Homo sapiens: one gene and its partner. The protein of the gene in region 2 interacts with the protein of the main gene of each other region in a pairwise test. Each region holds a gene or a part of one and is shown on either strand. Other genes may lie near its edges.

Region 1 (3,500 bases), on a different chromosome or scaffold from region 2:
TGTATTAATGTATTAATCGAGGCCAGGCACGGTGGCTCATGCCTGTAATCAATCCCAGTACTTTGGGAGGCTGAGGCAGGCGGATCACCTGAGATCAGAAGTTCAAGACCAGCCTGGCCAACATGGTGAAACCCTGTCTCTATTAAAAATACAAAAATTAGGCCAGGCGCGGTGGCTCATGCCTGTAATCCCAGCACTTTGGGAGGCCGAGGCGGGTGGATCACGAGGTCAGGAGTTCGAGACCAGCCTGGCCAAGATGGTGAAACCCCGTCTCTACTAAAAATACAAAAATTAGCCAGGCATGGTGGTGCATGCCTGTAGTCCCAGCTACTTGGGAGGCTGAGGCAAGAGAATCGCTTGAACCCGGGAGGCAGAGGTTGCGGTGAGCAGAGATCGTGCCATTGCACTCCGGCCTGGGCGACAAGAGCAAAACTCCGTCTTAAAAAAAAAAATACAAAAATTAGCTGGGAATGGTGATGCACACTTGTAATCTCAGCTACTTGGGAGGCTGAGGCAGGAGAATCGCTTGAACCTGGGAGGCAGAGATTGCAGTGAGCCGAGATGGTGCTACTGCACTCCAGCCTGGGTGACAGAGCGAGATGCTGTTTTAAAAAATATATATATAAATTGTCAAATAGCACTCTCTTTTAGCTACATATGGGTAAGCCAAAAGGTAATCTTGACAGCATTTCATTATGTCTTTTAGTAAGCATTTTATTTATTTTTCAGCTAAAGGTTATAGTGAATTCTCTGAAGAATATGATAAATACATTCGTGCCAAGTGGAAAAATTATGCAGGTGGTGGATGAAAAATTGGTAAGAGATATTATTTCTCACAATAAATGTTAAGCACATAGAAAATGCGCTGTTATTTATTTAAAGGCATAATTCAGCAACCTCTTCGCAGGGACTTGGGCAAATCTGCATGAATCTAGCTCACTGTCAGAACTTCAGAGGGACTTAAATTTGGGGAATTGGTAATATTAGGGTTACAGCATAGCAAATTATGGTTTCGTAAAAGGGGATGGGACTACATTACGACATTGGGCAAATAACCATATTTCATCTGGGAGTGTGGTATTTCCTTCCCTTTATGTAGTGAGTTCACTATTGAAGACTTGGTTTTTTTTCTTAAGTGTCTCAGGGACATCCAGAGATTTTTTTTTTGTAGATATGAGCAAATGACATACTCAGCCTGGCCCCTTATTCTGTAGAGTTCCTCAGTAGCTCTGACCCTGAAACTCATTTGGGCTGAGTGTTTCTGTGCAATCACCAAACCATTTCATTTTCATCCTCATCATGCAGGAAGACTCCATTTCTCAGCCCCGTTTTTGTTGACGCAGAACCAATGAAACACCTAGGGCCTGGCCCCTAGAACTGTTAAAGGGATCCTCATTGCTCTTGATGGCAGATTTTGGGCATTAATGACATTTGGGGTTGGGCAGCTTTTTTTTTTTTTTTTTTTTTGAGACCTCATCTCACTCTGTAGCCCAGGCTGGAGTGCACTGGCATGATCATAGCTCACAGCTGCCTTGATCTCCCAGGCTCAAGGGATCCTTCTGCCTCAGCCTCCTGAGTAGCTGGGACTACAGTCACGTGCCGCCACACCCAGCTACTTTTCTGAATTTTTAGTAGAGACGGAGGCTTGCTGTGTCACCCAGGCTGGTCTCCCAACTCCTGGGCTCAGGCGATCTTCCCGCCTCAACCTCCCAAAGTGTTCTCCCAAAGTGTTGGGATCGTAGGTGTGAACCGCCATGCCCGGCCTGGGTTGGATATTTCTTTGTCGTGGGCTTGTCTACATTCCAGGATGCCCGGCCTGGGGTGGGTGTCTCTTTTTTGTGGGGCTGTCATGTGCATTGCAGGATGTTTAGCAGCTCAGGATGCCCGGCCTGGGGTGGGTGTCTCTTTTTTGTGGGGCTGTCATGTGCATTGCAGGATGTTTAGCAGTGTCCCTGGCCCTTACCCACTGGATGCTGGTAACACCCCCTCAGTTGTGACAACCAAAAATGTCCTTAGATGTTACCAAATCTCCCGTGGTCGAGAATCATTGCCCTAGCGGCTGAGTGCTGTGGCCACATCCTCCCTATGACACTTGTACCTGCCAAGCACCAAACCCATTATCCCTCACGTGCATGCTCTCGGAGCTTTTGTTTCAGGCTATCCTTTATGTTCATACTTACCGGACTTCCTCAAAACAAAAAAATGCTGGCAGGAGCAAAAGAGGATGAGGCCCCCACGTTCCCCGTATGCCTTAATCTCCCCTCTACTCTGAATGTTATCAGGGAGGGCAACATTGCAGAGAGTTTTTGTGCCACGCCTTGGAATCGGACAATACTGGGTTTTAAGGCTGGATCAGTCACATACTAGCCTTGTGTCCTAGGGAAAGTTTCTTAACCTATGAAACCTCAGTTTTCTCATCAGGGAGAATAATAATTACTAATATATATTTCATATGGTGGTTGTAAGGGTTAAATGACATACTGTGTATAAAGCATAGTGCTTGGATGTAATAAGTGTTTAATAAATACCCATTACGTCACATTTGTTTGTTAAATGGCTGGAACATTCCACTTGGGGAATGCTTTGAGTTCCTAGGGAGAAAAAAAATATGTTTAGGTGACATTACATGTAATTACCAAGTTGGTTAAAAAAGTGAGATTCGTGAATTTTAAGCAGATTATCTCAGCAAAAGGCCGTGAACTTAAGTTGTGATCTGGATGTTAGTAGTTGCCATTGAGAATAAATATATGATGTCCACCACTGAATTTGCTCAATGTCTCTGGTTTGCTAAAAGAATGCAGTTACTTCATCTTAGCTGAAGATCAGCCATTAACCATGACACAGGGCTATGGATAGAATAGTGCAGGTTTATCTCTGTGAGTGTGGGAAGGAAATGGTAAGAACGGTATATGCCAGTGGCTAGAGGGTGAATTCGTGCAGAGAGATAAGGAGTGCTTGTTATGATGTTTTTGTGGTGTGGGTCAGGTTAGGTCATCCAAGTGGAATTACTCTCGTTCCTGCCTTCTCTGGAGAATGATGGAAAAATAAGGCAGGAAAAACAATCTGAGAATCTGGTCTCTGTATAGGGGCCCAATATTCAGTATTACATAGAATCTTTTTATAACTACATGATGTAAAAATGCTTTAAAAAATAATTCCTATCACTTATTATGATAGCAGTATCTAGAAAAAATTATATGTCCAAGAACTAGATTTCAAAGCATGCTTTTATTATATTTGTTTATATTATATTATATATTTTTTATTGTTATTATGTTAAATGCTTTTATTAATATATTTGTTTTCCAGCCTGGCCTACTTGGCAACTTTCCTGGCCCTTTTGAAGAGGAAATGAAGGGTATTGCCGCTGTTACTGATATACCTTTAGGTAAAGTTCACTTAGAAGCTTTAAAAAAAAAAGTAATTAAATTCTTTTACAAGTTTCCATTGAGGTGTGATATACATACAGCACAGGTGCTGTATGTCTTAGATATACAGCA
Region 2 (3,500 bases):
TCCTTCAGTGTCTACATAGACCTGCTGGGGAGGGGCATATATGCCAATATAAGGCCCAGATCCTTCTGTGCCAACGGGGAAAGGGTCAATATACCAAAACCTCATTAGGAAACTGTAAGAAAAGAACCTGCAAGACACTATTTTTATTTATTTATTTTTTTTGAGACGGAGTTTCGCTCTGTTGCCAGGCTGGACTGCAGTGGTGCGATCTCGGCTCACTGCAACCTTCGCCTCCTGGGTTCAAACGATTCTCCTGCCTCGGCTTCCTGTGTAGCTGGGACTACAGGCACGCGCCACCACACCCAGCTAATTTTTGTATTTTTGTAGAGATGGGGTTTCACCGTGTTGGCCAGGATGGTCTTGATTTCTTAACCTCATGATCTGCCTTCCTCGGCCTCCCAAAGTGCTGGGATTACAGGCCTGAGCCACCACGCCCAGCCAGTCATAGCTCTTTTAACCTGTCTTTTTCCCTTCTATTTCTCTTCTCCCTCTTCTATATCTGCTTACCTTCTGTTTCCCTTCACTTTCCTCTCATGATGTCTGACCACTGCTCTCTTTCTTTTATACAGTGTGTTGTGCTGCAATGGGGCTGGAATTGGCAAAGGTGCTGCGGAACTGCACCGGGAGGAGGGTTTCTGTAGCCTACGTGTCTTGAGCAAAATCGTCTCTTAGATAGGCTCGAAGCAATATATAACCCACCTCCCTGTAACCCTTTGGCTACATAATGGTTGTAAAAATCTCATGAACAGTGGCCAGCCATGTGAATCTTCATCTTCTTCCAAGATACTTCTGGGTCTGGATCCCAAAGGCCCTGACAACTCAAAGTACACAAATGCCCACCATCTGCTGCACCCACTCTACATCAGAGCAGCTGCATGCCCCCACTGGCATCAGCCCTCTTGGTCGCGTGCATTGCGGGCTGCAGAGTGGCTGCAGGATGCTGCTGAGCGATGGCCTCACCTTGAGGTCTCTGTGGACGATGCCCATTCTGTGGAGATAGTACACGGCGTCCAAGACTTGGCGGATCAGAGTGCTGGCATCCTTCTCTGTATAAAACCCCTTCTCCACTATCCGGTCAAACAGCTCTCCACCGGACACCCTGGCAAAAAAGAACATATTAGAAGTTTGAAAGGATCTGTTGAATTGTGAAGGGAAAGCTTCCAATGTGAAAAAAATCCCAAACTTTATTGCAAAAATGAATCCATCTTCAGATTGAGATGTTGCCCCCCTATTCCTCAGAGGCTATAGCCAGGAAATGTTTCCATGTCACAGCAGAGCAAATGTCTGGAACCAAGTAAAGGAAATTTAAAAAAACACGATCCACGGACCAGCCACACCTGGGTTCTGTCCAGGCCTCTGCCTCTGTTCTGCTGTGATGATGTAAAGTTTAAAAAAACCCTTCCTGAATACCAGCGTCCTCGGATACAGGAAGATGACCCTGAATAAAATGTCTCCTTTGCATGAGACAGTATCCTTAAATGACCGAGAGTGTTGTGGGCAAAACGCTGGCCTGCCAACGGGATGTGTGGGTTTTTGACCAAGTTCTGCTCCTAATATACTGGGATACGAACACCGCCTGAATCCCTGGACCTTGATGTTTTTATGTGTAAAATTAGGGGATGAATCTAGTCACCCATTTCAACAGTGGGTGGGAGCATGCCTTCGGAATGATCAGAACCTCAAAGCCACTTGTGATTTATGAAAAAGCAGGCAAGAAATCAAGACTATATTTCATTACTTTGCTTTGGTTTTAGTGATGCTGTATCCTTTTTATTAGCTTTGCATTTCAGATTGCATTTAACATTTTTAAACATTTTTCAAAATGGGACTAGGTTGGCAAGGGTCAAGAAGCCCTGTGGGGGCAACCTCTCTGGCACCTTTCAGCTCTGATATTTTATGCTGCCCTGAGTTCAACAAAATAATGGAAGTGTACAAGCCAGAATACAAACAACTCAACTAGTGTTCTCCAAATCATCTCAAATCATTAAGCCATCTTGGAAATAAATTTCAAGGGATTTATTAACACTACTGAAAAAAAAGAAAGAAACATTTTTCAAAAACAAGATGAGACAGATTTGAAATGCTAAAATCAAAAAGCAACTTAAATAAACAACCCTTAAAGCTTTCACAGATATAACAAAAGACAAGCCCTACGGTAACACACACTCATACACAAACACACAAAGATAAGATTCATTTTCCAAAAGGCACGACAATTTATGCGCAATAACTGATCCACTGAAACCTTCTTTTAAAAAAACTAATCAAACAACCACTGCAGCCGTAAAAGGCCTATGTGCTTGTCTCTTCCATTACCTATAGTCATAGCAGGCAATATTGTGCTTGGATAATGTTTCATTTCCAAGGCAAACTGACAATCTAGGTAAGAAAGAAAAGGTGCTCAGGAGAAATAAAAAAGCAATTCCAAGAGTGAAAAGAAACGGAAACGACTGGGAGAAACTACATTTTGATGACCGTGTTGTCTCAATGATCCATGCTTAGGTAAGCCAAGAGCCCAAGATACTCCTCCTGACACCAACTTCTCTCCTCTCATCATTTTTCAAGAACCTTCCCCCAACAAGTTTCAACATCTGAAACTTTGCAGAGCTCGAGAATGTACCAGAAGAGGTAGACTGCTGTTAGGGACAAGGTGAGTCTGGGTGCCCTAGAGACATTCACTTCTTATTTTTTCTGAGACAGGGTCTCATTCTGCAGCCCAAGCTGGAATGCAGTGGCATGATCACAGCTCTCTGCAGCCTTGACCTACAGGGCTTAAGCGATCCTCCCACCCTACATCAGCTTCCTGAGTAGCTGGGACCACAGGTACGTGCCACCACACCCGGCTAATTTTTGTATTTTTAGTAGAGACGGAGTTTCACCATGTTGCCCAGTCTGGTCTCAAACTCCTGGGCTGAAGAGATCCTCCCGCCTTAGCCTCCCAAAGTGCTGGGATTACAGGCGTGAGCCACTGCATCCGGCCTGCATTCACTTAATTATTTATTCAACTACTCACTCAACATTTCCTGGGTGCCCATTACATGCCAGTGAGCATGCCCAGTGGGATGCAATCGAGGCAGCTTTCACTCTGAAGGCGGAACGTCTGTTACGATTATGCCCTTCCACATAGGCCCCCTTCCAGTAGCAGCCTCCCTAACTGCTGTCTCCAGGGCTTGCTTCTCACTGTTCTGCCTGCTACTGCCTCCTCTCCTCTGCAACTGCTGGATGACCTCTGGCAAGAACGCTTACCCCTTCCACTGCTCCCACCACCTCCTGCCCTTAGGACCCCATGATCCAAACCTGGCCAACCTGCGTCCCTCAAAACCTACCTGTCCTGCTTCCCATTCTGTCAAGGTCCTCTTTTTTCCCATTATGTGATATATAAGGTATGGACGAATTCTACTGAATGAAAAAATCTGCATAAAATATTTTCTGTCTTACAGCAGTGCCATAGGGCAGCAATGCAGTGAAAACTGAAGCATCAAAGGATAGCATGTACTGTT

The links. Proteins that work in one complex are often made in the same cells at the same time.
Region 1: the proteins of CAMK1D (region 2) and ASAH1 interact in a two-hybrid assay, tested with the Homo sapiens proteins (one large-scale study listed by BioGRID and IntAct).

What each region holds. Positions count from the first base shown.
Region 1 is NC_000008.11:18,067,108-18,070,607, reverse strand, and holds part of ASAH1 (acid ceramidase isoform a preproprotein), read left to right. Parts: intron 1-729; coding exon 730-816; intron 817-3,309; coding exon 3,310-3,388; intron 3,389-3,500. UniProt on the Homo sapiens protein: Lysosomal ceramidase that hydrolyzes sphingolipid ceramides into sphingosine and free fatty acids at acidic pH.
Region 2 is NC_000010.11:12,758,547-12,762,046, reverse strand, and holds part of CAMK1D (calcium/calmodulin-dependent protein kinase type 1D), read right to left. Parts: intron 1,100-3,500; coding exon 961-1,099; intron 1-960. UniProt on the Homo sapiens protein: Calcium/calmodulin-dependent protein kinase that operates in the calcium-triggered CaMKK-CaMK1 signaling cascade and, upon calcium influx, activates CREB-dependent gene transcription, regulates calcium-mediated granulocyte function and respiratory burst and promotes basal dendritic growth of hippocampal neurons.